Linked DNA regions of Homo sapiens. The protein of the gene in region 6 purifies or fractionates together with the protein of the main gene of each other region. This does not show direct contact. Each region holds a gene or a part of one and is shown on either strand. Other genes may lie near its edges. The genes, in order: RNF146, LDAF1, SPATA2, TMEM171, HTR2B, WRNIP1 and HTR2A.

The links.
Region 1: the proteins of WRNIP1 (region 6) and RNF146 purify together in Homo sapiens (co-immunoprecipitation; one large-scale study listed by IntAct). This does not show direct contact.
Region 2: the proteins of WRNIP1 (region 6) and LDAF1 purify together in Homo sapiens (co-immunoprecipitation; one large-scale study listed by IntAct). This does not show direct contact.
Region 3: the proteins of WRNIP1 (region 6) and SPATA2 purify together in Homo sapiens (co-immunoprecipitation; one large-scale study listed by IntAct). This does not show direct contact.
Region 4: the proteins of WRNIP1 (region 6) and TMEM171 purify together in Homo sapiens (co-immunoprecipitation; one large-scale study listed by IntAct). This does not show direct contact.
Region 5: the proteins of WRNIP1 (region 6) and HTR2B purify together in Homo sapiens (tandem affinity purification; one large-scale study listed by IntAct). This does not show direct contact.
Region 7: the proteins of WRNIP1 (region 6) and HTR2A purify together in Homo sapiens (tandem affinity purification; one large-scale study listed by IntAct). This does not show direct contact.

Annotation. Positions count from the first base shown.
Region 1 is NC_000006.12:127,272,795-127,276,985, reverse strand, and holds part of RNF146 (E3 ubiquitin-protein ligase RNF146), read right to left. Parts: intron 1-4,191. UniProt on the Homo sapiens protein: E3 ubiquitin-protein ligase that specifically binds poly-ADP-ribosylated (PARsylated) proteins and mediates their ubiquitination and subsequent degradation. May regulate many important biological processes, such as cell survival and DNA damage response.
Region 2 is NC_000016.10:21,164,830-21,169,020, reverse strand, and holds part of LDAF1 (lipid droplet assembly factor 1), read right to left. Parts: intron 2,182-4,191; coding exon of another isoform or gene 2,110-2,181; intron 1-2,109. UniProt on the Homo sapiens protein: Plays an important role in the formation of lipid droplets (LD) which are storage organelles at the center of lipid and energy homeostasis. In association with BSCL2/seipin, defines the sites of LD formation in the endoplasmic reticulum.
Region 3 is NC_000020.11:49,905,289-49,909,479, forward strand, and holds part of SPATA2 (spermatogenesis-associated protein 2), read right to left. Parts: intron 3,305-4,191; 5' UTR 3,203-3,304; coding exon 2,867-3,202; intron 1,558-2,866; coding exon 331-1,557; 3' UTR 1-330.
Region 4 is NC_000005.10:73,126,507-73,130,697, reverse strand, and holds part of TMEM171 (transmembrane protein 171), read right to left. Parts: intron 2,309-4,191; coding exon 2,167-2,308; intron 1-2,166.
Region 5 is NC_000002.12:231,107,485-231,111,675, reverse strand, and holds the end of HTR2B (5-hydroxytryptamine receptor 2B), read left to right. Parts: intron 1-2,266; coding exon 2,267-3,159; 3' UTR 3,160-3,446; downstream 3,447-4,191. UniProt on the Homo sapiens protein: G-protein coupled receptor for 5-hydroxytryptamine (serotonin). Also functions as a receptor for various ergot alkaloid derivatives and psychoactive substances.
Region 6 is NC_000006.12:2,778,544-2,782,734, forward strand, and holds part of WRNIP1 (ATPase WRNIP1), read left to right. Parts: intron 1-719; coding exon 720-949; intron 950-4,191. UniProt on the Homo sapiens protein: Functions as a modulator of initiation or reinitiation events during DNA polymerase delta-mediated DNA synthesis. In the presence of ATP, stimulation of DNA polymerase delta-mediated DNA synthesis is decreased.
Region 7 is NC_000013.11:46,886,675-46,890,865, forward strand, and holds part of HTR2A (5-hydroxytryptamine receptor 2A), read right to left. Parts: intron 1-4,191. UniProt on the Homo sapiens protein: G-protein coupled receptor for 5-hydroxytryptamine (serotonin).

The DNA.
Region 1 (4,191 bases), about 120 Mb from region 6:
AGAATCACTGAAATTGCTTGTTAGAAATACATATTCTCAGCCCCTTTCCTTAGAAATTCTAGGCCAGTAGACATAGGTTTAAACCTAGGAATCTCACCCCAGGTGGTACTCATGCTTTAGTCCTTCAAATACAATCTGAGAAACACCATCCTCAATTTTCAGTTCCTTAAATCCTAAATTTGAAGAAATTAATCTACTCTCCAGCAACCAAATATTATAATCACATTTAAAGCTAGTTGTCACCTAAACTGCTGCCTCTCTGAAATCTTAATCCGACTCTCAGATCACAAGCTCTGGTTCTTCCAGCCTACTCATTCCCACACCTGCTCTTCAATTTCATGGGGACCTACCATCTCTTGACCATCTCCTTTCCTTTATCCAGTTCCTGATCTCATTTCCTTTCCTGCCCATTCTGGAACCCAATCTTTTTTACTTCTTAACAGAACCCTTGGCCCCCTCATATCTTTATCTCATATACACACATTTTACAAACCCCCATTTCTGCATAATTCTTACAATATGACATCTCAGGTTTCATGTCTTAACTACTTTGTGTTCATGGAGAAAAAGAGAAAGTCCTTTCTCTCACCACACAGCCCCCTGCTCCCCCACCCCAACCAACCACACCATAAATTCTGTCAACTTTTATTCCTAATCCCTTTGGAATCTATCCTGTACTCTCTACCCATTGCTAGTGCCCTAGTTTAAACCTACATAACTCTCACCTGGACTATTGTTCAGCCTGATTATCTTGTGTCAGTATCACCCTCATTTATTAAGCCTTTGAGTGAGATTCTCTCTCTCTCACTCTCTCACACACACACACATACACTCACTCTACAGTCTGTTTCCCAGGCTAGAATGCTGTGGCATGATCATAGCTCACTAAAACCTCAAACTGCTTGGCTCAAGCGATCCTCCCATCTCAGCCTCCCAAGTAGCTAGGACTGACTGATATATTTAAAAGGCAAAATGGACCAGGTTTCTTCCATATGTGAAGCACAATATTGGGTCCTCAGCCTACACAATAAAGACAAAGCTCCTTAGGACAACATTAAAAGGTTTTAAAGATCTAAACTGTAAATAATTAGTCTCTAGTCTTTTTTATCTTCAACAACCACCCATAGATTAATAATCTAGTTGTATAAAATTACTCATAGTCCTGCAAACCTCCCTTTGTAGCTCTGTATTTCCTCCTGCCTGGTACGATCTATTCCCTTTTACAGCTTATGAATGCCTATTTGTTCTTTAATATATTACACAGAAATGGTTATCTCTACCATTTTCTCTGACTACCTCCAGAAAGTTAACTGTTCTCTCCTCTATGTTTTGTATGTTTTTCTATTACGGAATTTATCACATGCACTAATTTCAATTCATTTGTGAAGTCTGACTCTTCTGTGAAATCATGAATCCCCTGAAGATAGGGAGATTTTTATATCTTTAAATAGCTAGTAAATTGTCAATCAATTTTTGTTGAACTGATATTTTTTGGATGAATGAAAAATCAACTCCTAAAAGTAACTATTGTGAGGAACAGAATATCAAAGGATTAGATTTATTCAAATAACACAACACTTGAGTTCTAATTGTGAACTCAAGCTGGAATCTGTAAGATACATAAAAATATCTAAGTTCTAATCCTTGCTTTATATAACTTAAAATCTAAAGGAGTTCCTACATTTACAAATATAAAATTCAACCCATCTTTGTATCTTTTGGCAAGCAAATCATTTACCCAGCTATTGTTCATTGTCAATGAATTCTCCAAAATGGAGATAAAAATCTAAGCATAAACCAAGATGGGTTTCTGAACAGCCAAAACAGCTTCACAAAGCTCTTTCCCCAATAAAGCTTATGATTCTTCACTAGGATGACCACATAGGTCAGCCCAGCATCTATCCAGTTTGCCCTTGGTCTCCCAACAAGTGTTCCAGTTCAGAAAAATTATACAGACATTCTACCCTTTACCCATCACAAAGGTTTTCGGACCATCACTCAAAAGTCAATTTGCTCTTACTTTACCCACAATTCTTTTGTTTTGTTTTGTTTTAAGAGACAGCGTCTGTTAACCAGGCAGGAGTCCAGTGGTATGACTGCAGGTAACTTAAACCTCAAACTCCTGGCCTCATGTGATGCTCCTACCACAGGCTCCCAAAGTGTTGGGATTACAGGTGAGGGCCACCATGCCCAGCCTTTACCCACAATTCTAACTTGAAGTTTTTTGGTCCACAAAGTCCTGCTGAGTGTTGCTGTTGGTCATTAGCACTGCCTATCCTTCGCTATCTTACAAGTCTTTTAAGATGTACCAATCCATCCTTCTCAGAACCTAATTGATTGAATGGTAAAACCTCTAGTGTGAAGATTCAATTAAAACATTTCTTCTAAAAATTTCGTTCAATCACTATTTGTACTTTAATAATTGAGATGTGTAGAAGGTACCATTTTATTCCTAAGAAATACACAAAAAATGTCCTTGTTTCTAATTCTCCTTATCTCCTGAATGCATTTACACATTATCTGTAACCAATCTAATTTATTCCTCTCTATTCACTTACTTTACTTAGGTCTTATCCATAAATATTTTATCTCTGAAACAAAAGTTGATTCTTAAAGGAATCTAAGTTAACTGAAACAAAGCAGCTTCAAAATAAGTACAAAAAAATCCTCTAAAGAACCCATATTTGAACACCCAAATAAGCTGTGATCTTTCCTATAAAACTATTTCACATAGCTGAAATAAAGCTATAGCCACAAATATTAAAGTAAAAGCTTTGCTACATATCCACTAGAACAAAGGTACTAAAAAAAAATCTGGTTAATTCAAGGAGATGCATTCTCTCATTCTGCTTTCCTTATTTGAAGACTAATGATTAAATTCAAGTAACTTATCAATAGCAAAATTATTTGAAAAAGCCCCTTATAAAGAAAACACACACACACACAAACCCAGGAGCAGAGAACTATTTACTTAATAGTACTGAAATAACAGCAAAGTATCTATGAATAATGACTTTCCATCAATATAAACTTTCTCCTTCAACAGAAAGAACATCCTTGCCCTCATTACACTCCTCTAGTCCAGTTATGTTCAGCAGTAAACAAAAGAATGTATCAGTGACCATAACTCACATTCGAGTATCTTTCTATACATTAATGCCATTTTCAAAAGAACACAGCCAAAGACATATTTATTTAGCCTATTTCTTCAATTTTTTTTTTTCTAATTCTGGCCTGAAGTCATTTCTAGGATTCCTTTAGAAATGGCTTTCTCTAATTTTCAAAATATTGATGATGTCATTTCTTTCTTTAAAGATCTTTGACGATAACCTCATACAGCTGACCTTTCAACAACACAGGTTGGAAATGAACAAGTTGACTTATATACATACAGTTTTTTCAATAAATATGTTGGAAATTTTTTTGGAGATTTGTGACAATTTGAAAAAACTTGCAGATGAATCATGTAGTCTTGAAACATCAAAAAAAGGAAAAGAAAAAATTAGGTATATTATGAATGCATAAAACATATATAGTCTATTTTATCATTTAGTATTATAAAATATAGAGAAATTATAAGAAGTTAAAGTGTATCAAAACTTAGTAAACACAGACACATATGGTGCCACTTGAGGTGGTACAAGAAATTTAAACAAATGTAAAGATGCAGTATGAATCATAGCTGTATAAAATTAATTGTAGTACATACTGTAATAATTTCCTGTTGCTATTATGAATTTCCACTTAAAATGCTGTGGACACTAATCATCTCTGCATGTATTGGAGTAAAATGTAATCTCTTGTTCTTGTGTATTTTTCATCATGTTTAGTACAATACCATAAACCTTGAATAACACCATGGGACCCATGTGAAGTGCCACTAGTGATGCTAGAAGTGCTCCCAAGAAGCCAAGAAGTCATGCCATTACAAGAAGTTAAATTACCTGGTACACACCCTAGATGGGTCTGCAGCTGCAGTTACCCATCATTTCAGACAGACACCTTATAAACAGGTAACATAAACACAGTATCGGTAAATGCAGTACTGTAAATGTATTTTTTCTTCCTTAGGAATTTATTTTCCTTTAGCTTATTGTAAGAATATAGTATGTAATGCATATAACAAACAACGTGTTAACTGACTTTACAGTAGGCTATTAGTAGTTAAATTTTGGGGAAGTCAAAACTTAT
Region 2 (4,191 bases), on a different chromosome or scaffold from region 6:
AATTATAATTATAATATAATAATTATATATGTTTATAATTATATATAATATAATATATTATATTATATATACTATAAATATAAATATTTAAATATATAAATATAAATAAATATAAATATATAAATATAAATATATAATATAAATTATAATTATAAATATAAAATATAAAAATATTTATAATTATATAAAATTAAATTATATTTAATTTTATATAAAAATATAATTATATTTATAAAAATATAAATATAAAAATATTTATAATTATAATATATAAAATAAAAATATAATATAATATTAAAAATATATATATAATTATATATAAAAATATAATTGTAATGTAATATAAAAATCATAATTATAATATTGTATAATTATATTAGATATATTATACTAATATTAGTTATCAATATTCATATAGCATTATTATATATTATATAAATATATTATATTTATATATGTATATAATTATAATATGTATTATATTATTTATATATTATTTATTATAATTATAATTATTAAAAGCATTATTATTAAAAGCATTATTAAGCATTAAAAGCTAATCACTTGTCTATTAGTAAGCATTAAAAGCTAATCACTTGTCTATTCACTTGTCTATTAAAAGCTAAGCTCAGCATTAAAAGCTAATCACTTGTCTAGAGTCGCACAGCCTCCAAGTGGCAAAATCTCAGCATTAAAAGCTAAGGCCTGGCCAGCATGGTGGCTCATACCTGTAATCCCAGCACTTTGGGAGGTGGAGGCAGGCGGGTCACCTGAGGTCAGGAGTTCAAGAACAGCCTGGCTAACATGGTGAAACCCTGTCTCTTTTAAACATACAAAAATCAGCCAGGCATGGTGGCGCGTGCTGGTAGTCCCAGCTACTAGGGAGGCTGAGGCACGAGAATCGTTTGAGCCTGGAAGGCGGAGGTTGCAGTGAGCCAAGATGGCGCCATTGCACTCCAGCCTGGATGACAGAGCAAGTCTCCTTTTCTTTTCTTTCTTTCTTTTTTTTTTTTTGAGATGGAGTTTTGCTCTTGTCGCCCAGGCTGGAGTGCAATGGCAAGATCTCGGCTCACTGCAACCTCCGCCTCCCGGGTTCAAGCCATTCTCCCGCCTCAGCCTCCCGAGTAGCTGGGATTACGGGCGCCCCCACCACGCCCAGCTAAGTTTTGTATTTTTAGTAGAGACAGGGTTTCACTATATTGTCCAGGCTGGTCTCGAATTCCTGACCTCAGGCGATCCACCCGCCTTGGCCTCCCAAAGTGCTGAGATTACAGGCGTGGGATACCGCGCCCCACCGCAAGTCTCCTTTTCAAAAAAAAAAAAACAAACCTAAGGTCTTGGACTCAGAATGTCCAATGCTTGCAACAGCTGCCACCACATCAAGTAAAAATGCTTTTATGTCATCAACCTGGTTACCATAGTTGGCCACAGCCTGTGACTAATGCAAGTTTATGTTGTGTTAATAGTTTATTTTCCTTCACCGGGCAAAAAGGAATTTTCGATCTGACTCAATGGAGGGAGACTGCTTTAACGCAGAGCTGGCCATAGGCAAATCCGCAAAGATGGGTTTCCCCCTCTCCTCCTTAGGCTCCACGCCTTCTCTCTCCTCAGTACTGGTATTCTAGATCCTGTTCACTTGAAAGGAACCATTATTCCAGAACCTCCTTCCATCATAACTGGTCCTTCCTGAGCCTCATCCCTACGGCCTTGCAGGCCAACAGATGAAAAGAAGACATAATTCAGGTCCCCAAAACACATGTGCCTCCTAGGAAGAAGAGTTTACCCAAGTGGTTTAAACAGTGGGATTTTCAGGGCGAGTTGGAAGGCAGGAGGGGTTTGTGGTTCATGCTGAAGGAACTAAAGTGCAAGCTGCACCCTGCTTAAATAAAAGAGGCCATGCCAAGAAGCCACAGCCATTGGTCTTGGGCTTCAGCGTGGTCTCCTAAGGATTACTCTCGAGGCATGGCCAATTTCACTCCCTGCCAGGCCACAGGACGGCATAATGCCCGCTGACCTCACTGCCTCCTGCTACCCCACCATTCTGACAAAAGCCACCAAAGAGCTTGCTATTCCGCTTCTCTAGCCAGAGATGACTGTAGCAGGAATCACCTTGGAGCCAGCACTGCCCAGCCTGGACACTCCATCATCAGAGTCCAGTGAGATCCTGCTGTGTTGGGGCAGCTGAAAGAGAAAGAGAGGCGGAGGAGCCGTGGGAGTCACCACACAGAATGTGGGCTGGTCCCTTGCGCTGTCTCAGGTCCTGACTTCTTTCCAGTTCGAATCCACATGCATCCTTATTTGATGCTCCCTGTGTCACCTGATCTTTACAATCCAAAGAACCACAGTGGGGAGAGCAGATGGGCTCTCCAGGAAAGGGAGGCAGCAGTACACCCGTGAGTATGCTGCGCCAGCGAGGGAAGGGCTGTGCAGCGGAAGGAACTTGTGAGGCTGGGACACCAGGACACTGGGCTTGCTAGCTTATCCCCGGGCTGTCCATCACAGGCCACCTGCGCCATTCAGCACTTGAAATGCTCCTCCTGTGACTGATGGCCTGGATTTCCAATTTAATTTAATTTAAATTTTAAAGCTGAGACTTGATTCAGTTGTTGGAAAAATTTTAAGTATGTTTCCAATAGGTTGGGTATGTGAATCTATTTCGCTGAATTGTAAGTTTTATAAAATCTGAATAGAGATTAAATATTTCCAATGAAAATTTGGCATCAGAATTGAGATGTGCTTTAAGTGTAAGAAAAAAAAATGCAAAATATCTCATTAATACTTTTTTATATTACCTGTTGAAATTATAGTGTTTTGGATATATTGTGTTAAATTGAGAATATATTATTAAAATTAATCTCTGGCTGGGCACGGTGGCTCACACCTGTAATCCCAGCACTTTGGGAGGCTGAGGTGGGCAGATTACTTAAGATCTGGAGCTTAAGACCAGCCTGGTCAACATGGTGAAACCCCGTCTCTAGTAAAAATACAAAAAAATTAGTCAGGCAGAGTGGTGCGTGCCTGTAATCCTAGCTACTTGGGAGGCTGAGGCGGGAGAATCACTTGAACCCGGGAGTCAGAGGTTGCAGTGAGCCGAGATCACGCCACTGTACTCCAGCCTGGGCGACAGAGCGAGACTCCATCTCAAGATAAATAAATAAATAAAATTAATCTCATTTGTTTCTTTTTGTTTTTAATGTAATTATTAAAAAACTTAAAATTATATATGTGGCTCACATAATATTTCTGCTAGACAGCACTCATTTAAATTTCATCTGGGAAAAAAAAAACAGGGAACAAACTGCTGTCATTTGAGCAGAACTATGACATGATTAAAGGAATGATTTAAGAAATATGAACCTAGCAATCATGTGCAAGAGGCAGGTAGAAAGATTTGCAGGAAATCAGGCAAGATATACTGTGGTCAAGTCCAGGCTGATGGCAGAGAGGGAAGAGAAGGGGGAGGGGTAGATGGGTATGAAAGTGGAATGACAAAAGAAGGAATACACAGGACTTAGGGACTGTATGGCACAGGGATATAAAAGGAAACAGGCAAGACTGTTCCACTTCAGTCCTTAAGGAATCCACCTTTTTCTTAGCCTTTTGTTTTTTTGAGATGGAATCTCACTCTATTGCCCAGGCTAGAGTGCAATGGCATGATCTCGGCTCACTGCAACTTCCGCTTCCCAGGTTCAGGCGATTTCCAGCTAATATTTATATTTTTTAGTAGAGATGGGGTTTCACCATGTTGGCCAGGCTAGTCTCGAACTCCTGACCTCAAGTGATCTGCCCGCCTCGGCCTCCCGAAGTGCTAGGATTATAAGCATCAGCCACCATGCCCCGCCATTCTTAGTCTTTTCCGAGTCTGGGCTCTATAATCAAAGAGAAAGTCATTTAGATATGCAAAGAGACCAAGATTCAGATGATTAAACCCAGAAATTGTCTTCTCCCAGGAAGTACAGCTGAGCTCCAGCCAGTCTGTCCCAGGAGGGGAGGACACGATTCAACCACACCTAATAATAACAGAGAACATTCATTAAACACTCAGGTGCTGGGCACTGCTTTAAGCACCTCTCGTATTATTTCCTCATTTATTTCTTCCTACAATGCTACGAGGTAGGTAAAAAAGAACGACCTAACACTATTTAAACTCAGGGGGGTAGAACGTAGCAATTAACATTTCATTCTCATGGC
Region 3 (4,191 bases), on a different chromosome or scaffold from region 6:
ATCCTCTTTAAAGGAAAAAACAAAACAACAAAACAAAACAAAACAAAACCCCAAAAAAAGAACCAACTGAACAGGGAGTGGAGAGATTAGCAAAATGAATCTGAACGGAAGTGCCACCTTCTCCCTTGTCAGACAACAAAGCAGCCATTGGTTGAGATATCTGAGTCGCTAAGTGAACTCCCACGTGGACACAGCCAGCCCACGATCTCTGCCACCTACATGGTCAAGTGCAGGCCTCCGCCTCTGAGATCAATGCGTTAGTACTTCTTCACCGTGAAACCCGAAAGGTCGGTTGATGTAGCCCTTGGAGCTGGAAGGGGCGAGGCCGGTCTATCTGTACACGAGATGGGAGAGCTGGGTGGACTTGTAGTTCAGCTGGTTGTTGGGCATGAACTTGTGCAGCTCACTCTTTTTGTAGCAGGGGTCATAATGGTAAGCGCTGAGGCAGGCGTCACATGAGACTTTTGAACACTGGGTGCAGGTGTTGGTGGCGCCTGGGCGGTTGCAGAAGCCACAGCGGGAAGTGGGCGTGGTGGAGGGCTTGGATTTGGAGTGAAGGTGCGGGAGGCGGTCGAGGCCCTGAGTCTGGCCTGGGTACTTCTCCCGCAGAGATGCCCCGTGGGCCAGGCTGTCATGAGTCGAGGCCTTGCTGGGGAAGGCGCTGGGCTTGGAAGCTGGAGGACAGGTGAGCAGGCTGTCACAGCGCTGGCAGAGGGAGGAGCTGCAGGACAGCCCGCAGCTTTGGCACTTGGAGAGGGCGGACTCTTTGGCAGGGGGCGAGCGCTTGTGGTAGAGGGAGTGGGCATCGTTTCTGAGCAGCCACACATCCGGCCGCAGAGCATCCTGCCGACGGTAGGTGGCCCTGGGTTCAGAGTCTGTGTACAGATCCACGTCATCCTGAGTGGAGAAGTAGGTACCGCGCAGCAGGGCCGGGCCGTTGCTGGGGGAGGCGGGTGGAAGCACATCCGGGCTGCCGTGGGGGGAGCTGGCCATGGTCAGCAGCGAAGGGGATGGGCGGATGATCTCATCCTTGAGGTCGTCCCCCACATCCGTTGCCACAGGCTCCTTCCGAAGACTCAATGAGGCCTTCAGGGGTGGCTTCCGGCTCTCCCAGTAGCTGTCATAGGCATCCACTGACCTCGAGGGCTTGGTCACGCGGGGCTTGTAGTAGTCCTTGGCCGCCCGCTCGCTGGCCGACTTCTGGAGTGCCACTCGTGACATGGAGGCCGTCAGGTGCTCCCGGCCCTCTGCCCGCCGCCGCAGGGCGTCCGAGCAGCCGCGCACATCCTCTGCACTGCTCTTGCGCTCGCTCACAATGTCCAGCTCGGAGTAGCCCTTGTCCTTCACTTGTGAGTGGATTTCTAGCATCTGCTCACACTCGACTTTGGCCAGAAAGAGCTCAAAGGAGACCATCTTCACCTGGAGGGTCTCCACGAGCTCTCTGAGCTTGTATGCAGTGCCCAGCTCAGGTGTGTAGCCCATGCAGCTCAGGATGGCTCGGATGTCCTCTTCCAGTAATGTCGACTTGACATAATAAACAAAAGGGCCCGTGTAGGTCTAGAAGGGAGGGAGTAGAAAAGAAAGGTGGGGTTTTCTGTCAGAGACACAAGACAGAGACTATGTCAAAGCAAAGGATGTCCAGCTCTGAAGTGGGGCGGCGGGGAGAGGGCAGGGCAGGGAAGGATCTCGACAGCCTCACCCTGCGGGAGGCAGAAGACGCAGGAGCTGGGGCTTGCTAAGCACTCAGGAATTGTGCAAGGAAATGACCCAGCAGCTCCTTTCTTTTGTTTGAGACGGAGTCTCGCTCTTTTGCCCAGGGTGGAGTGCGGTGGTGCGATCTTGGCTCACTGCAACCTCCGCCTCCTGGGTTCAAGCGATTCTCCTGCCTCAGCCTCCTGAATAGCTGGGATTACAGGCGCCCGCCAACACGCCCAGCTAATTTTTCTGTTTTTAGTAGAGATGGGGTTTCACCGTGCTGGTCAAGCTGGTCTCAAACTCCTGACCTCGTGATCCACCCGCCTCGGCCTCCCAATGTGCTGGGATTACAGGTGTGAGCCACCGCGCCTGGCAGCAGCTACTTTGTTAAACACAGGAAGCAAAACCTCTCGCTTCCTAGTGGGGCACGAAGACTCTACTCCATATGAAGAGAGAGCCTGGGCAAACATGGCTGAATAAAGGGGCCAGATTACAGGCAGAACGCGGTGACAATCAGAACGTTCCTCTCTGGTATTTCCATGAGGGGCTGAGTAACACGGCAGACTGAAGGGCCTGGCTAGGTGACAGCTCTCCTGTGCCATCCCCTCTCTTGATTACCACTCCTCCCATGGCAGAATGAAGAAGCCTGGCTAGGTGACAGCTCTCCTGTGCCATCCCCCGCGTGGTCTGATTCAGGATCCCTCTCTCAATTCCCCCTCCTCCTCTACTGTTCCCACTTAGTACAGAACACCCCTCAGCTTGCTGGGACCGCTGAGAAGCTTCCTAACTGCTCTCCCCATCCCTCCCACCTCCCCCCACCCCTCTACAGCCTACTTCCCATACCACAGCCAGAATGACCCTCTTCAGATGCAAGCCAGATCCCACACTGCCTCCTTCCCCGCCTACTCAGAACAAATCCAAGCCTTGCCCTGGGCCACAAGACCCTGCATAACCTGGCTGCCCCTGCCTTCCCAGCTTCTCTGCTTAAGGTGTGGCAGCCGGGCCAGAAACGGTTCAGAGGTGATGCTGGAGAGACGGGGAAGGTTCGGAGCCCGGAAGGATCTGAGAGCACAGGATGGATGGGATCAGACTGGCATAGCCTCTCAGGAGGGACTGCCAGGGGCAGGAAGAGAGAAGGAGGGCCTGTATGGAGGCTGCTCCAGGACCTCACCTTGATGCTTCTGAATTCCTTCTTCCACGGGTAGAGGAAGAGGTTGATGCCCACCGTCTCCAGCATGCTGAAGGCGCCGTGCAGAGCCCGCAGGCTAGAGGAGCTGAGCGAGCGCAAGGAGCTCTCCACCACCTCATAGAACTGGATCAGCCGGAATCGATAAAAGGGATCCACCTTGTGCAGGCTGAGCAGGGTTGAGGCTGCCACCCGCAGGCACTCATCGCTGCCAGGCCGCTGCCTGCTGGTGGTGGTATCCACTTTGCTCTCATGGAACTGCACGTACTTCCGAAATAAGTCATCCTTGAATTTAGTATCCATTGAACTGGGCTTCCCCATCCGATCGAGGGGGGCTACCTTATCTCCTCCATGGCTTCTGGATTAGAGGCAGGGACATCACTAAAAGCATGGACATGTTGCCGCCTGGACCAGCGGAGTGCTCTGGAAGGAGGGGAACAAGAAGCATGTCATTCCTCGATACGGTCGCGCTTCGGCTTCAGGTCGCTGAGGCAAAATGAACAGCAGAACTGGCCTGGGCTACACTGGACCCCAGCAGCACACTACAGAGCATGTACTACAAGCAGGGTTACAACAGAGGCCAGAGAGAGATGGACCTTGACTTTGTTGTGCTCACAAATGAAAAATACGATTAATATTCCTGAAAGAGAAATTCGGGTGAGTACAGCAGGAGCTCCTGTCCTGGTTTCGTTGGGGAAGGGCGAGTTTAGGAAAGCCCTCTTGAGACAGCAACAGACCTGAAGGATGAGGAGTCTGCCAGGCCAAGAGGCCGGGGAAGGAGTCGCAGTAGAGGAAGGCCCTGAGCTAATAGTACCAGAGGCTCCAGACACGTGACGAGCTTCACACACACTAACTCGCTTACTTTTTTTTTGAGATGGATCCTTGCTCTGTAGCCCAGGCTGGAGTGCAGTGGCGTGATCTCAGCTCACTGCAACCTCCGCCTCCCGGGTTCAAGCGATTCTCCTGCCTCAGCCTCCCAAGTAGCTGGGATTACAGGCACCTGCCACCACGCCTGGTTAATTTTTGTATTTTTAGTCAAGATGGGGTTTCACCATGTTGGCCAGGCTGGTCTCGAACTCCTGACCTCAAGTGATCCACCAGCCTTGGCCTCCCAAAGTGCCAGGATTACAGGTGTGAGCCCCCATACCCAGCCTCACTTTTTCTTCTTAAACAATCCTAGGAGAGAGACGCTACAGGCAGCCCCAGTGGACCATGTGCAAACTGAGACACAGACATTAGAAACTGCTCAAGGTAGGCCAGGCACAGTGGCTCACACCTGTAATTCCTGAACTTTGGGAGGCTGACGGGGG
Region 4 (4,191 bases), on a different chromosome or scaffold from region 6:
AAGCCAATTCTGTCCTTGTCAGCCACCTCTTTCCCTCTCCCATCAGATAACCTGTCCCCCTGCTTTTGTGGGAAAAGAATCTCTACACAACTTCATTCCCTCCAGGCCCCAGAGAAAAGGCACCCTGGCCCCTGCTCCAAGGCCCACTGCCTGCTCTGTCAAGGCAGGGTGGAGAGGGAGTTCCTTAAACACGAATAACAAGGTAAGGTGGTGCTATCCCCAGCAATGAGCACCAGTCTCTCTGTGCCTGCTGCTCACTGCATGCAAAAATGCACATATCTCATTGTCTTACCTGCTTCACCCTGTGACAATGTGAAGCAATTCTTCCTTCCCTTCCTAAACCCTGGTTTCCCATTCTAGAAGGTACCACCAGAGCCTTCTCCAGCCCTGCTCCCTGAGCACACCATTTCTGGGGTATGCACAAGCCCCTCCTGGGGGTCTCCCACTAGTCCCTGACTCTTTGCCCTTCTGGTTCTCCAACAACCTCTGCAGCTCCATCTCCATCACCTCCTCTCTCTCCCAAAACCCAGCCCTTCCCAGTCTGCCTCCAAGGCCCTCATCTCACTGTACCGCCACCATCAGCCGCCCACCATCCTTTCCCCACCGAAACCAAGCTCATCACTCACGTCTTCTCAGTTGGGGACCTCTGAGCTTCCCTGTCACTCACCCTGGAACTCATCATCTTCGCCTCTTCCTCAATGTCATTCTCCATCCAGACCCCCTCCCCCAGGCTCCTGGCACCTCAGGCCCGTCCCACTAGAGCCTGCCTCGCTGCATTCTGTGTGGGGTGGGTATTGACCTGATATTCTCTGCGGCCCAGGGAAGGAGCGAATATTGAAGGAGAGGCCCAGTTGTGTTGGATCGGGGCTCAGGCTGACTTTAGCCAGTCACCCAAGCACGGCCATCAGAGTACTAAAGCCCTTCTGTAACTGTTGGGGATCCCCTGAGACCCTCACACCTCTCCATGATCTAAAGCAGTGAAGCCTAGCATAGCAGGGGCCTCCTGGCCCAGTCCTGGTGCTCAGTCTGATTGGTGGGTCATTAAACATTCTTTTTTTTCCCCCTGAGATAGAGTCTCTCTCTGTTGCCCAGGCTGGAGTGCAGTGGCGCGATCTCGGCTTGGAGCAGAAGAATAGGGTGTGGAGGCAGGGAATCTACGGCCGTTTCACGCTGACTTCCTAGAACTAAATTGAAAGGAAAACCCTAACTTTCCACCCCTGAGTAACAAAAGGACCAAAGACTACTCCCTTTGCAAACACCCACCTTTCGGCAGATGGGAAATTGAAAGTGCCTCTAATTGGTTGCTTTTTGCAACCAATCAGACATTTGCATAGGACAACAACTTTGTAACTTCACTTCAGCCTCTGATTGGCTGCTTTCTGCAACCAATCAGACGGATTGTGGGCCACCACTTCATTTACATGAGGTGAACACAAAGTGGCCAATGGGAAACCTCTAGGGGTGATTTGGACCCAAGAAGATTCTGGAACTGGGCCCTTGAGCAGCTGTTCAGGCTTGCTCCCACCCTGTGGAGTGTACTTCCATTTTCAATAAAATTTTGCTTTTGTTGCTTCATTCTTTCCTTGCTTCGTTTGTGCATTTTGTCCAGTTCTTTGTTCAAAACACAAAGTACGTGGACACCCTCCGCCGGTAACAGGCTCACTGCAACCTCTGTCTCTTGCGTTCAATCGATCCTCATGCCTCAGCCTCCCGAGTAGCTAGGATTACAGGTGCCTACCACCATCCCCAGCTAATTCTTCTATTTTTCGTAGAGACAGGGTTTTGCCACGTTGGCCAGGCTGGTCTCAAACTCCTAAGCTCAAGTGATCCACTCACCTTGGCCTCTCAAAATGCTGGGATTACAGGTGTGAGCCACAGCACCCGGCAAGGGTTGTTAAACATTCTGAGTATCACCCCTGTTAGGAGCACATAAAGATAGATGCCTGGAGTAGGCTTCATATTAACCCAGCATGATCACTTTATCATTTTTAACTTATGTGCTGCCCAAATTTCGGCAAAGGTACTGTTAATATCAAGACACTAATTCTGACATAACATCAGCAAAAAAGATACTCACACTTGAATGCCTCCTGGTGAACCACACAGCCTTAATACTAGTGTGGCCTGAATTCAGGCCTCTCTTGAAGTTCAAATTGAAATTCTTACCCATAGTTGAAAATACTGTAATATGAAGGGGGGTTTTCATTCGGAAGCAGACTGTTAGTTCCAGGACTCTCAGCGACCGCAGAAGCTGAAGATTCAGGAAAGTAAGGTGGTGGAGGGGGTGGAAATATTATTACCGAGTCACCTAAGGCAAAACAATATTTAGTTGACAACAGGTGGGTAATAAATGGAAGCAAATTAGCAAAAGCAAAATTAATTATATATTTGGCCCATCTATATAAAAGGTCAACACACCTGCTGCTAACTCCAAAATTTAAAAGTAAGCCCATTAAATGTATAGAGATAGAAAAGTAGACTAGGTTACCAGGGGCTAGGAGGGGTTCGGGAGGAGGAAGGGAGTGGGAATTGCTGTTTGGTGAGTACAGAGTTGCTGTTGGGGATAATGGAAGAGTTCCAGAAATTGATGATGATAATGGTTGAACAACATTGTGACTGTATTCAATGCCACTAAACCATTTAAAAACGGTTTGGCTGGGTGCAGTGGCTCACACCTATAATCCCACCACTTCGGGAAGCTGAGGAGGAAGGATCGCTTGAGCCCAGGAGTTGGAGACCAGCCTGGGCAACACAGCGCTATCTCATCTCAAAAAAATTAAAAGAAAAAATTTAGCCAGATGTGGGAGTACACGCCTGCAGTCCCAGCTACTCGGAAGGCTGAGATAGGAGGACTGCTTGAGCCCAGGAGTTCTAGGCTGCAGTGAACTATGATTGTACCACTGCACTCCAGCCTGGGTGACAGAGCAAGACCCTGTCTTAAAAAAAAAAAAAAAGCCAGGCGTGGTGGCTCACGCCTGTAATCCCAGCATTTTGGAAGGCCGAAGCGGGTGGATCACTTGAGGTCAGGAGTTCAAGACCAGCCTGGCCAACACGGCGAAACCCTGTCTCTACTAAAAATACAAAGAAAAAACAATCAGGCAGGCGTGGTGGCAGGCGCCTGTAATCCCAGCTATTCGGGAGGCTGAGGCAGGAGAATTGCTTGAACCCGGGAGGCAGAGGTTGTGGTGAGCCAGGATCATGCCACTGCACTCCAGCCTGGGTGACAGAGTGAGATTCTGTTTCAAAACAAAACAAAACGAAACAAAAAGCAGTTTAAATTGTTTATGCTTTATATATATATATATATATATATTTTTTTTTTTTTTTTACCACAAATTTTTTAAAAGTAGGCCTACATTTCAGAATCCAGAGTGCTGACAATTATGGTATGAAAGCAGGTCTATATTTTGTAGCAAGTCTAAGACCAAGCCTTTTTGTGAATTGTTTGCTAACAAGCTCCTTTCCCTCCTCTGGGGTGTCTACTGCTGAAAAAGCTTTTCTCGTTTTCAGCCTACAACTTTAATTCACAAGTTAGCTGTTGGCTAAAGTGCCTTGTTCCTCAAATGTAGTTTCAGCCCCTGAGCAAATGACAGTAAGCCATATTACAGCCCCTAACTGTTATTTACCAAAATTTCACCCATACAGATGAAGGTTGAACCCAAAGAAGTTTGGTTTTTGCATTTCTGTGGCTACTGTTCACTCCAGAATACATCCTCATGTTTTGAGGAGAAACTAGGGACCAGATGCAAACTCTAATTTGTATTCCGATTCCAATATAAAATGCACCACACAAGTGGACCAGAACAGTGTAGAGCTCTGGCAGCACCACTGCTGGGGGCCTGGTGAAAGCCTCTGAGAAGCTGGCAATAGCAATAACAGTTCAGAAAAAATGAAGAAGATGGGGCTTTACTTCCCTGTAGTGGTTCACACTCCTAGCATGTCTGATGCTTGCTTAGGGTGGCATAGGATTCTTTAAAGTGATGGGGGTTCCAACCTGAACAAGCTAGGCGACCTCCTTGACCTCAGCCGCCACAGCTGTAAACTGCAGGCCAGGCAGTTCTTGCATCACAGGACAGATAGAAGGAAGGACTAGATGGACTGATTTGCATCTGGCAGTGAACACAGTGCGGAGCACAGAGCCAACTCTCTCAGCTCAACACCAGCCGAGGGCACTGATTTGCATGATGAAGA
Region 5 (4,191 bases), on a different chromosome or scaffold from region 6:
TTGTCTTGTAGAACCGATCACAAATTAATAACTTTGAAAAAATGAAAATGCAGATGACAATAAGCTCAGTTCTGAAATTCTACAAAATGCTGAAGAGAGCTCACTCTCTTCTTTTGGATTTACAGTTATTCTAGGTAATACCTGGCAACAGAAAGTATAATAATATAACAGGGTAAGGGCATAAAAAGTACCAGTGAAAACTTTTACAGTTATTGACCAACAAGCTGGATAGGAAAGTAGTGTGAGTCCTGATATTAACAGAATGTAAAAACTGAGATGAATGAAGTCTCATTAATAGAATGAGTTAATAGAATGTGAAAACTGAGATGAATGAATGAACTAGAGATAAAAATAACAGGAAACAGAAGTTCTCTAGGAGTGAGGGGTAGCAGGACAAGGAAGGGAAGTATTAGAGTTCATAATCTTAGGGATTGTTCTAAGTAGACTTGTAGATGGCTTTAGTGCAAATAATAATAATTAGAGTCAAAGAGTTCAAGAAATATAAAATTAAGGTCTTAGAAGGGTCACGAATGGGATGAAGTAGAAAATGCTGGCACTGGAACAGTGGAGAGAAGACTATAGCAGGTACTGAAGCCATTGATGAAGATGAACAAATGTCATGGAGGTTAACAGAAAAGCAAGATGGAGAAGAAAGTATTAAGTAGATAAAATAAACTTCAAAAGGCAAGTGTTTTGGGGGAGAAATAAACAGTGGAATGGTGATCTGAAAGTAACAGGGTAAAGCAGGGGTCAGCAAACTTTTTCTATAAAGGGTAAGACAGCAAATATTTTGGGCTTGCAGGGCGTATATGGTTTCTGTCACAGCTCCTCCATTCTGCTGCAGTAGAACAAAAGCAGCCACAGACAATATGTTACTAACAAATGGGAGTGGCAGTATGCCAATAAAACTTTTACAAAAATAGAATGTGGGCCAATGGTCCTCAAACTGTAGTATAATGACCCCTGGTGTAGAACAAGTATACAGAATCCTCTTTCTGGTGGTGTACATGAGGAAAAGTAGAGAAAGTAATGACCTCTGTTAGAAAGGGTTTGAGGAACATATTCTTGTCAATGGCTCTTTAGCTACCATAAAAAGGGTGTGTAGATGAGGGGTGCTCTTGGATTCACAAAACAACACAAGGATTCCAGAGGTTTCTAAAGATCAATTAATTCAGACATTTAAAAAATATCTGCTGTTTCAAAGGAAAAAGATTCAGGTTAACCCCTGTATTATTTGTCTTTCTAATAAGCTACTTCACTAAGAAACATCATATTTAAATACTTCATGGTATTTAAAGATCAGAAAACTAACATGAGGTATATTTCTTTCCCAGGTCATAAAAGAACTTTTTTTTTGAGACAGAGTCTTACTTTGTCGCTGAGCGTGGAGGGCAGTGGTGTGATCTCGGCTCACTGCAACCTCGGCCTCCTGGGTTCAAGTGATTCTCCCACCTTAGCCTCCTGAGTAGCTGGGAGTACAGGCGCGTGCCACCATGCCTGGCTAATTTTCATATTTTTAGTAGAGATGGGGTTTCGCCATGTTGGCCAGGCTTGTCTCAAACTCCTGACCTCAAGTAATCCACCCCCACTTGGCCTCCCAAAGTGCTGGAATTACAGGCATGAGCGCCACTGTGCCCAGGCTTCTACAGAAGAAGAAAGATTAAGAACTCATAATCTTTCAACATCATGATTCACACACACTCAAATTTTAAGTAGCACTTTTTAATGAACTTTAGTTTTCCCTAAGAAGTTAGATGGAAAGGATTAAAAGACATTCACACATATCAAAAGGAAAAACTGTTAAATGAAACTGTAACCTCAAAGACAAAACTGAGTAAAGATATTGAATAAATGTACTCTGAAGTGCCTCTAGATCAACTACACTGGATAATAAGAAAAAAGCAGGTTCTCTTCTGAATTTCTCTTCCTTAATCTGAGATAGCTTAAAAAACAAAAATAGATTATGAGAAATGTAGAATAAATGAAGACATTCTCCACTGTATCATGGATATACTATAGCTTTAGGGGAGCTTTCATTATAAATCTGAAATTACTAACCAATCTCCGTTTAAAAACAGATTTGCTCACTTAGGTTCTGTTTGTCAAATCTTCACTGATGAATGCTTCGACAAATCCTGCATTGTGGGTCCCAGGAATTATAATGCACCAACAAGCATAAAGTTATAAGGATACAATCCAAAAGGATCTAATCGAAGAGTTACAGGTCATAAAATGACTCAATTTATCTTGTTTTCCTCTTCCTTAGGCATTGCCATTCCAGTCCCTATTAAAGGGATAGAGACTGATGTGGACAACCCAAACAATATCACTTGTGTGCTGACAAAGGAACGTTTTGGCGATTTCATGCTCTTTGGCTCACTGGCTGCCTTCTTCACACCTCTTGCAATTATGATTGTCACCTACTTTCTCACTATCCATGCTTTACAGAAGAAGGCTTACTTAGTCAAAAACAAGCCACCTCAACGCCTAACATGGTTGACTGTGTCTACAGTTTTCCAAAGGGATGAAACACCTTGCTCGTCACCGGAAAAGGTGGCAATGCTGGATGGTTCTCGAAAGGACAAGGCTCTGCCCAACTCAGGTGATGAAACACTTATGCGAAGAACATCCACAATTGGGAAAAAGTCAGTGCAGACCATTTCCAACGAACAGAGAGCCTCAAAGGTCCTAGGGATTGTGTTTTTCCTCTTTTTGCTTATGTGGTGTCCCTTCTTTATTACAAATATAACTTTAGTTTTATGTGATTCCTGTAACCAAACTACTCTCCAAATGCTCCTGGAGATATTTGTGTGGATAGGCTATGTTTCCTCAGGAGTGAATCCTTTGGTCTACACCCTCTTCAATAAGACATTTCGGGATGCATTTGGCCGATATATCACCTGCAATTACCGGGCCACAAAGTCAGTAAAAACTCTCAGAAAACGCTCCAGTAAGATCTACTTCCGGAATCCAATGGCAGAGAACTCTAAGTTTTTCAAGAAACATGGAATTCGAAATGGGATTAACCCTGCCATGTACCAGAGTCCAATGAGGCTCCGAAGTTCAACCATTCAGTCTTCATCAATCATTCTACTAGATACGCTTCTCCTCACTGAAAATGAAGGTGACAAAACTGAAGAGCAAGTTAGTTATGTATAGCAGAACTGGCAGTTGTCATCAAACATAATGATGAGTAAGATGATGAATGAGATGTAAATGTGCCAAGAATATATTATATAAAGAATTTTATGTCATATATCAAATCATCTCTTTAACCTAAGATGTAAGTATTAAGAATATCTAATTTTCCTAATTTGGACAAGATTATTCCATGAGGAAAATAATTTTATATAGCTACAAATGAAAACAATCCAGCACTCTGGTTAAATTTTAAGGTATTCGAATGAAATAAAGTCAAATCAATAAATTTCAGGCTTTAAAAAGAACCACTGTCATCATAAAATTTATTTGGTTTCTAATTATATGCAAAGTTGTGCTAAGAATGAAATAAAACAAAACAAACATTAGCCTTGCCTTCCAGGTCTTAAAAGCATAAGGCATGATACAGAACAAAAGGAACACAGAGCTAAAAATAAGTGCACAAAACAGTGATCACATCTGGAGGTGAGTTAAGATTGCCATTTATAGTCTGATTTAGTTGAATGCAGTCATAATTTTCCTCTGATCAGGAAACTGTTTTGATGGAAGGGATAGGGAGGATAGTAGCTGGATATCACACAAAATAACAAGAACTTGGAACTAGACCTGTTTGTTAAATGACTGATATTGAGCTTCTACTCAGCACAGGTAGGTCTATTGGAGAAGGAGGAAAAAGCAAATAAAATCGCTCTTGGGTACCTGAACCACATTAGGTTTCTTAGAGATATTAATTAACGTGCACAAGCATGGGATCTTAATCAGGGATACAAACTTTAAGTGAGATCATGCCTGCCTATGTATGCTTGTCCAGTGACTCAAGTGAACTTCCAGCACAAAATTTTTTATTCATCCTTTCAGTATATTATTTTGCACTGTTAGATCTCAGAATGAGTCCAACCTGTGCCACTTACCAGACAGCTGATTAAATTTAGGAAAAATACTTAATTTCTTCAAGCCCCAGTATTCTCATCTGCATTTTATACAATTCTTATGAGGATGAGTACATAGAAGGCACTAAGTAAATGGTAGACA
Region 6 (4,191 bases):
GGGTCTCATGGCTATGTACCAGCAGTCTTCTCGTCGCTTCCCAGGCTAATGACCTCTCTGCTACCCTGTGCGGATTTTGCATGATTAGTGTCCACTATGAGATGACCTACTGCAGCATCCCAAGATTCCCCAGGCCAAGAGAATCCTGAGACCTGCTTCTAGGACCTGCTGTGCTCAGAGTAACTAGGGACCCAATTTGTTGTTTTTAAAATGAAGGAATTGAACTGCATGATCTGGAGCCCTTCAGAGCTAATATTCAGATATAATGCTGACTCTCCCCTGTGTGGAAAGTGGTCTAAGCACATCTGTCTCATCGGATGTAGGCTGCATTTGGAACATGTTTTCCATACACGGTAATGAGGTGCTAGCATTTCTAATAAAGTTTTCACTGTTGTGCAGGGTAGAACCAGAGAGACCACCTGTCAACAGTGACTTTCCAGGCCAGTCAGTGTCTGTTTCACACAGACTTAGATGTATGAACCTATGCAGTGAGATACCCTCGACACTCATAAGATACAGGGCGATAACCTGGTGACTTAGGAGCCCCAGTCAGTTCGTAGTCTTGATGATGCTTAAGCACATTGACAAAGGTGAGAATAAGAGGCAAAGGCCTTGAACTCTTCAGTGTCCTTGCTGAGAAGTATGAGTTTCTAAGACATGTGCAGAACAAGAAGTATGCAGCCTGAGTGTGACCGTAACTAACCCTGCTTGTGTTTCAGGCCCGCCATGTTCATAGAGGATAAAGCAGTAGACACCCTGGCTTACCTCAGTGACGGTGACGCCCGAGCTGGGTTGAACGGACTGCAGCTGGCGGTGCTGGCTAGGTTAAGCTCTAGGAAGATGTTCTGTAAGAAGAGTGGGCAATCCTATTCTCCCAGTAGAGTTCTGATCACAGAGAATGACGTGAAGGAGGGCCTACAGCGATCCCACATTTTATATGACCGGGCAGGTAAGTAATTCACCTGTGGAAAGAGTGAAACCATACGGAAAGAAGTGTGTGCACACATTCTCATTTCCGGAAGCCTGACTGGGTTCCGGAAGCATTCCAGCTGGGTCCAGAGCATTCCAGTGATTCTCAGGTGGATCTGCATGTTGGTATTAAGCCTTCTACACAGGGCTGACCTTTCCGAAGAGAGGCATGAAGCAGAAGCTGCCCTGTTGAGAATCTAGAGGAGTTTTGGGGTTGGAAATGGCAGGCTGCACATTCACCTTAGAAGGTAGTTGGCTATTCCCCACCTTGCAGAATACAATCACCTTTGAAAGCCTGTGCATTCACTTGACAATGAATATGTTTTGTGATCATTTACAACGGCAGTAAATAAAAAGAGGACTTTTGTCATAATGACTTATTAGTTTTAATTGAGAATTAAAATGCTTTATTTCTAGAGTCTATACTAAAAAATAGTCATGGATCTTGAAGTTTTTATTTTATGTAGTAGCTTTTTCAAAAATTTAATTTTGCTGTGTGCACTTATCTGTTTTTGTAGAACTGCATTTACAGATAGCAGATTTGATACCAGCTCTTATTAAATCTGTGACTTAGCAATATTAAATGTCATTAGCACAGCACATTTGCATCTTTTTATAAAAGAAGTGGGAGATGAATATAACATACTGTAGATTAGCAAACTTCTGCTGCTTGAGCATTTGTGGGACTTTGGATGGAATCATGTTGCAGTAACTGTGGAATATAATTTCCACACTTTTCAAAGCTCTGCCAGAAAAGGAGGCTGATAATTGAATGTTCCTGATCTCACGTAGGCTGTGCCACGTGACAATGGAGAGTCCTTACTGGTTAGAGAAGGGGTGGAGGGGCTTAAGAATGACTTTGGTTCCAAGCGCTGCCTCTTCGTGGGTGAGCACACTCGCTGCATGACCTAGGGGGGCTGACCAAAGCTTTTTGGCTTTAGCGTGCCTCAGCTGATGGTAGCTCAGGGGTGTTCATTAGTGCTAAGGACACACTGGCAAGTTGAATAAATAATCCTGTCTACATTGTGACGTGAATGTGCCTCAGCGGGGCCTGCTCAGATGGCTGGCTCTCCCTAGTGCTCTGGAGCATGACGTGAATGCTTGCAAAGTCTGAAAAGCAACACATTCTAGGTGTGTAGAGCCCTGCTTGACTTTTGGTCAAATAGAAAAAATGTAGATATGAACAAGAAAAAAGATTTTAAGACATTAAAAAAATCTCACCATGCCGGGATCGCCATTGTTTCTGAAGTGCAGCAGCAGCGGTCTCTCTCTCTCTTCTTGTAGGTGTCCCAAAGGATTTGCCTTGTTTTGATTGGAACGACTAGGACTGTTCTTTGACATTTTATCAGACTGTCACTTGAGATCCATATAACATGGCATTCACTAACACTCAGCCATTGAGTATTTTATAGGTGTATTCATTTTTTAAATTCTCAAAATTGCTTTATGGAGATAGCTATTAATATTACCCCCATTTTAAGATAACAAAGCAAGTGGTGAAACTGACCCGTAAATCCAGGTCTTACTGGTTCCCAAGACTGTCCTTCCCCCCGTCCGCATTTGCCTCCACACCAGCCTTGCCATGCTGTTACTGATCTCACCCATTACATCATGCTCCTGAGAGGGGTCACCCGTCCATGCACATACAGAGCGGATCTTGGAGGGGTTCAGTCCTAGGAATCCCACTTCCTGAGCTCCACGTTGCAGAGCTCTGCACAGTGGGGATCACCTTGTCTATAGCTTGGAGCTGGGGGGTGGTGGAGGCTGCCTAGTGCCGCTGCCTAGTGCCAGCGCCTTAAGAACCCCACATCCTATACATCTTCCCAGTATGAGTGTGTTTACACACCCCACCCCAGTGCAACATGTCTGCCCCACAGTGGATCCGCAGACACATAAATATCATTCAGATCTTGGAGAAAGCTGCTTTTACAGGCTTTGCTCTATAAATAGGGATAGTGGAAGCATTGCCCTGGAAACCTGTTAGCTTATACTCTTGGGCCTTTTTATAACTCCAGTGAGACAAAGACCCACCCCCAGAGTTGTGATTATTTTTGTATATGCCACCTAGTTCATAGTTACCCACTAGTAGGATCCAGTGATGTTTCTGCATCAGAGTGAAGGAATTTCTAAATGAGAGCAAACTCTCTGCCATGCATTGACATCGGGGTTCTATAGAAGTCGTCAGATTTCAGGTTATAAAGCAGTGTGTAATAAAAGCAAACATGGAAGGTAGCATAGAATAATACTAGTATCTATCACTGATGCAAAAGAATCTTTTTACAGTGCCTGCTCTGTGCCAGGCGTGTGTTATTTAATACAGCCCTGTGAGGTAAGTGGTCTCGTTTTTCCCATTTTACAGATGAGAAACCTGAGGCACAGTGAGGATCAGGAACTTGCCCATGGCCCATGAGCTTGGGGGTCCAGCCCAGGCTGTTTGGTCCCAGAGCCTGTGCTCTTGTCCATTATACTGGTGGTATTGCCCCTGGCATTGACAAAGTGGGAAAAGATGACTAACCTGTGTAGGGGGAGTTTAAATTTGACATAAAGTGGTGTGGGTAGTTTCTTCCAGCCCCCATGCCCGTGAGTTTAGCCAGGCCTGTTACCTGCTACCCTCTTCCCCGCCTTCCTCCACCCTGCAGAGGAGCAGAGCGTAGCCTGAGTGCCTGGGCCAGCAGGGTGAGGGAGTGGGCCAGAACCATGCAGATGTCATCCAGGACACCCTCTCGGCCAGTGTCCATAGCACTCTGACTTCACCAGGGGAGCCCTGCACAGGAGACACTCAGTTTGTTCTCAGAAATCCAGTAGCTGGGCTGACCCATCCATCTGCCCTGGCTCTCAGAAACCAGAATCACTCAGGCTGAGCCGTGGGTCCTGCAGGTCTTTCCCCTGTGGGAGGCCAGCATCTTCGCTTGCTCTCTTCTCCACCTGAAGACCAACTGTCATCTTACCAGCGAGCTCAGCTGCCAGGGTTTGTGGCTGGCGCCAGTCGTATTGTGGACATGGGCTTATGCTGAGCACAGACCAGGTGCTCCTCTGGGAGGAGTGAGACTCACGGGAACACCATCCTCCGCTTTCTCGTGAGGAGGGTGCCCCCTCCTTGAACTTACCTAAGGGACGATGGCCAGAGAATAGTGAAATGTATGCAGGTGCCACTGCTTAGTTCCTGAGAACTGTTTAGCTGTCATTTTTTTGCCCTTAAATATGCCTTTTTTTAAAGCACAT
Region 7 (4,191 bases), on a different chromosome or scaffold from region 6:
GGGTACCAAGGTAGCCAGGATGTTAAGAAGTTAAGATTCTGGAGTGAAGGGAAGAGCAAGAAAGCAAGGTAATACTATGAGCTACCTTTCTACTCAGGCAGTTGCCAGTTTGTTAAAGGAACAGATTGAGAGACCGAATAGCTAAAGAGAGTTAGCAGTAGTCTTACGATGTTGAGGATATGAAACTTGAAGCTCAGAGCTCCTCAAAATGGAGAACACGTCAGGCTTTCATCTGGGATCATGAAAAAATACATCCTAGGTATAAAGGCAAACTAGAAATAGACTGGCTTTTATAAGAACCTTGCCTTAAATAAACTCAATCCCTTATTGGATTAAGGGGAACTGTGCTTACTTTAACTGCTGTTAATGCTAAAAGACTCCACTCTGGAGAAAGGCAGTATCAACAAAACACCCAAACATTTTATTTCAGTGTCCAGTATTCAATTAAAAAGAATTACCAGGCGGCCAGGCGCAGTGGCTCATGCCTGTAATCCCGGCACTTTGGGATGCCGAGGCGGGCGGATCATGAGGTCAGTAGATCGAGACCATCCTGGCTAACATGGTGAAACCCCATCTCTACTAAAAATACAAAAAAAAATTTAGCCGGGTGTGGTGGCGGGCGCCTGTAGTCCCAGCTACTTGGGAGGCTGAGGCAGGAGAATGGCGTGAACCCAGGAGGTGGAGCTTGCAGTGAGCCGAGATCGCGCCACTGCACTCCAGCGGGGGCGACAGAGTGAGACTCTGTCTCAAAAAAAAAAAAAAAAAATTATCAGGCATACACAGTACTCAATTAAAAAAATTACCAGACATATCAACAGACAGAATGAAGAGAAAAACAACCCCAAAACTCAGAAAAGAGAAATCCCTAGGTAATCCCACAACCCAGAAAAGAGAGATCCAGATAACTTGTGATTAATATTTAAGAAAATAGATGAAAACATGGAGAATTATTCTAAAAACCTGGAATTTATAAAGAATTAAATGAAAAAATCTAGAACTAAAAGTGTAGGAATTAAAATTAAGAAAACAAGAGATGGGTCTTAGGCAGATTAGAAGTAGCTGATGAGAGGACTAGTAACAGAAGAAGAAAAGTCAGTAAAGCTATCTCAAGAAATAAAAGGAGAAAAATGTACAAAATGTAGAAGTGTTTAACACTGCATGTTCTCACTAATATGTGGGAGCTGAATCGTGAGAACACGTGGACACATGGTGGGGATCAACACACACTGGGGCCTGTTGGTGGGGGGAGGTGGGAGGGAGAGCATCAGGAAGAATAACTAATGGATGCTGGGCTTAATACCTGGGTAATGGGATGATCTGTGCAGCAAACCACCATGGCACACGTTTACCCATGTAACAAACCTGCACATCCTGCACATGTACCCCTGAACTTAAAAGTTGAAGAACAAAGCAAAAAAAAAAATGTAGAAGTGCTTGAGTTATAAAGAACTTAGGTAAAAGGTTTAGCATACATGAGATTGGAGTCCCAGACATGAGGAAGAGAGAGAATGGGGCAGAAGCAATATTTGAAAAGATGGTGACCAAGAGTTTTGTCAAAGTGGCCAAAGTCACAAGTTTAAGAATCAGTACATACACCATGCAGGATAAAAACAGAAACTAATTCACAACTAAGTACATCATGATAAAGTTGCTAAAATAGAGACAAAACATTCTGAAGCAGCAGGGCGTGGCACAAGGTGATGTTTCTGAAGGAATAAAAATAAGACTGACAGCTGGATTCTTACAAACAAAAAATATAAGCCTGGAATGTTGGATTTGCCACCTATGAAGTGCTGAAAAAAAAAAAAGATGACTGTCAACCTAGAATTCTATACTGAACAAAAATGTGTTTGAAATGAAAGCAAAATAAAGATGCTTAGGATAAGAAAAACAGAACAAACGACATGATATTCTAGAGGAAATTCTTCAGGAATGAGGAACCCAGGCAAAATCATGAAAATGAAGAAAGCAATAAACAGCAACAGGGGTTAATATGTGAGAAATAGTGAATAGAATGGCTATAATGATGTCTTATGGGTTTAAAAAAGACATTTAGTAAATAGGGAAAAACCCAAAAGACAACAGGGATAGATGGAGCTAAAAGGTTCTAAAGTTTTTGCACTATCCGAGAAGTGTTACAAGTAATAATTTGTTTTAGACTCTAAGGTCAATAAGGAATGTTGTAATCATTGAAGTAATTTAAAACAATGGATAACAAGCTCATAAAGGGGAATGATGAATTGACAATTCTTGATTAGTCCAAAAGAAGGTAAGAATGAAAAGAAACTAGAATATAGAACAAATAAGAAAATAGCAAATTGTAAGATAACAGATTTAAACCCAAATATGAGTTAACATTATATGTAAAAGGACTAAATACTCCAACTAAAAGACAAAGATGGGGTTAAAAACAAAACTTTATATGCTGCTTACAGGCTAACACTTTAAAGTCACAAAAGGTTTGAAAGTAACAGGATGAAATAAGATATATCCAAAAATGATAATCAAAAGAAAATTAACGTAGCTATACTAAGATCAAATAGATTTTAAATCAAGAAGCATCACTAGATATAAAGTGGGACAGTTAATGATAAAAGAATCAATGTAAAGGTTAAAATTTGTATGCAGCTAATAACCCATGAAGGTATAGAAAATGTAAATGCAATAACTATAGAAGTTAGAAATGTAACTTAAAATACTATTTAAAAAGGAGCCAGGATGAAGAGATTTGGAACCAAGTTCTACATAACCTCTCAAAAACATGTAATTTCTACTTAAAGACTTCAAGACTTAGGGAAAGTGGAAACTTCTCTATCATTTAATAAAGCTAGAAAAAGAAAACTTGTAAGAATCATAAACCAACCAACTTTGTCATACAAACTCAATATTCCAGGAATGTAAGACAGTATTACATTTAGAAATTTACCAAGAGAGTGAACATATCAATAGCTTGAAGAGAAAATATCAATTGAGTCTAAAAAAAGCTTTAGTTACTAGTAGAAGCAAACAAGTTAGATCATATTTTAAAATTCCAGCTAGACTAAGGATCTAAATTAAAAGAAACCACACACAAAGCAAACAAAAAACTAAACCCAAAGCAAAATAATCAAAACAGAAACACTAGAAGAAAACTCAAGAGAATATTTGTGCTGAGTCTCTGTAGGTCCTTCATTAGATCTGCCTTTTTCCTTTTTACATTTTCCGCTTGCCCCCTCCTCAGGGCACACACCTCAGACTTCTAGTATAGATTCTATGTAACTTTTTTTTATTCTTTTGTTTCCTTGTCTTCTCCTACCTTACTGTGAGAGATCTTTGAATGCATATCTTTTTCATCTTGGTCTATACAGTGCCAAACACATAGTAGATGCACATTACAAGACTGGTCAAATGTGGGGGCAGTGGCTCATGACTGTAATCCCAGCACTTTGGGAGGCCAAGGTAGGGGGATCACCTGAGGTCGGGAGTTCGAGACTAGCCTGACCAACATGGAGAAACCTTGTCTCTACTAAAAATGCAAAATTAGCCGGGCGTGGTGGCACATGCCTGTAATCCCAGCTACTCAGGAGGCTGAGGCAGGAGAATAGCTTGAATGCGGGAGGCGGAGGTTGCGGTGAGCCAAGATAGCACCATTGCACTCCAGCCTGGGCAACAAGAGCGAAACTTCATCTCAAAAAGACTGGCCAAGTGGATGGATGAATGATCCCTGCCTGGCACCACCACAATCATTCCAGCCTGCCTGCCTCCTGTGGTGATAGTCTGCCTCTGGCTCTTTCTGGCTATCTTTTGTGCAGTGGAAAGAGCATGGGCTTTGGACTCAGATTGACCCATATTGACTCCTGATTATAAGTGATATCATCCTGTGCAACTGAGTTCTCTGAAGCTGATTTTCTTTAAGGGGCTTTGTATACTACTGGGTCCGTACTCAGTGCTCAGAAACTGTTACCTTACTACTGGTGTTATCATGAAGCCTGAATGAGATGGGGGAGTCAGTGTGGCTGAGGAAAAGATGGTTGACCTTCCCAGCATTTGTCTCACCAATGGCACAGTATATTGGGGTAAAACTATGGACAGTGTATCAGGGTAAAAATAAATAGCTTCATTTGCTCCCTCTGCATTAATCTTGATTCTCCTACTTATCACGCTGACCACCCTGAAAACCTGTCTCAGTGGTCTTCAACTCTGACTGCCCCT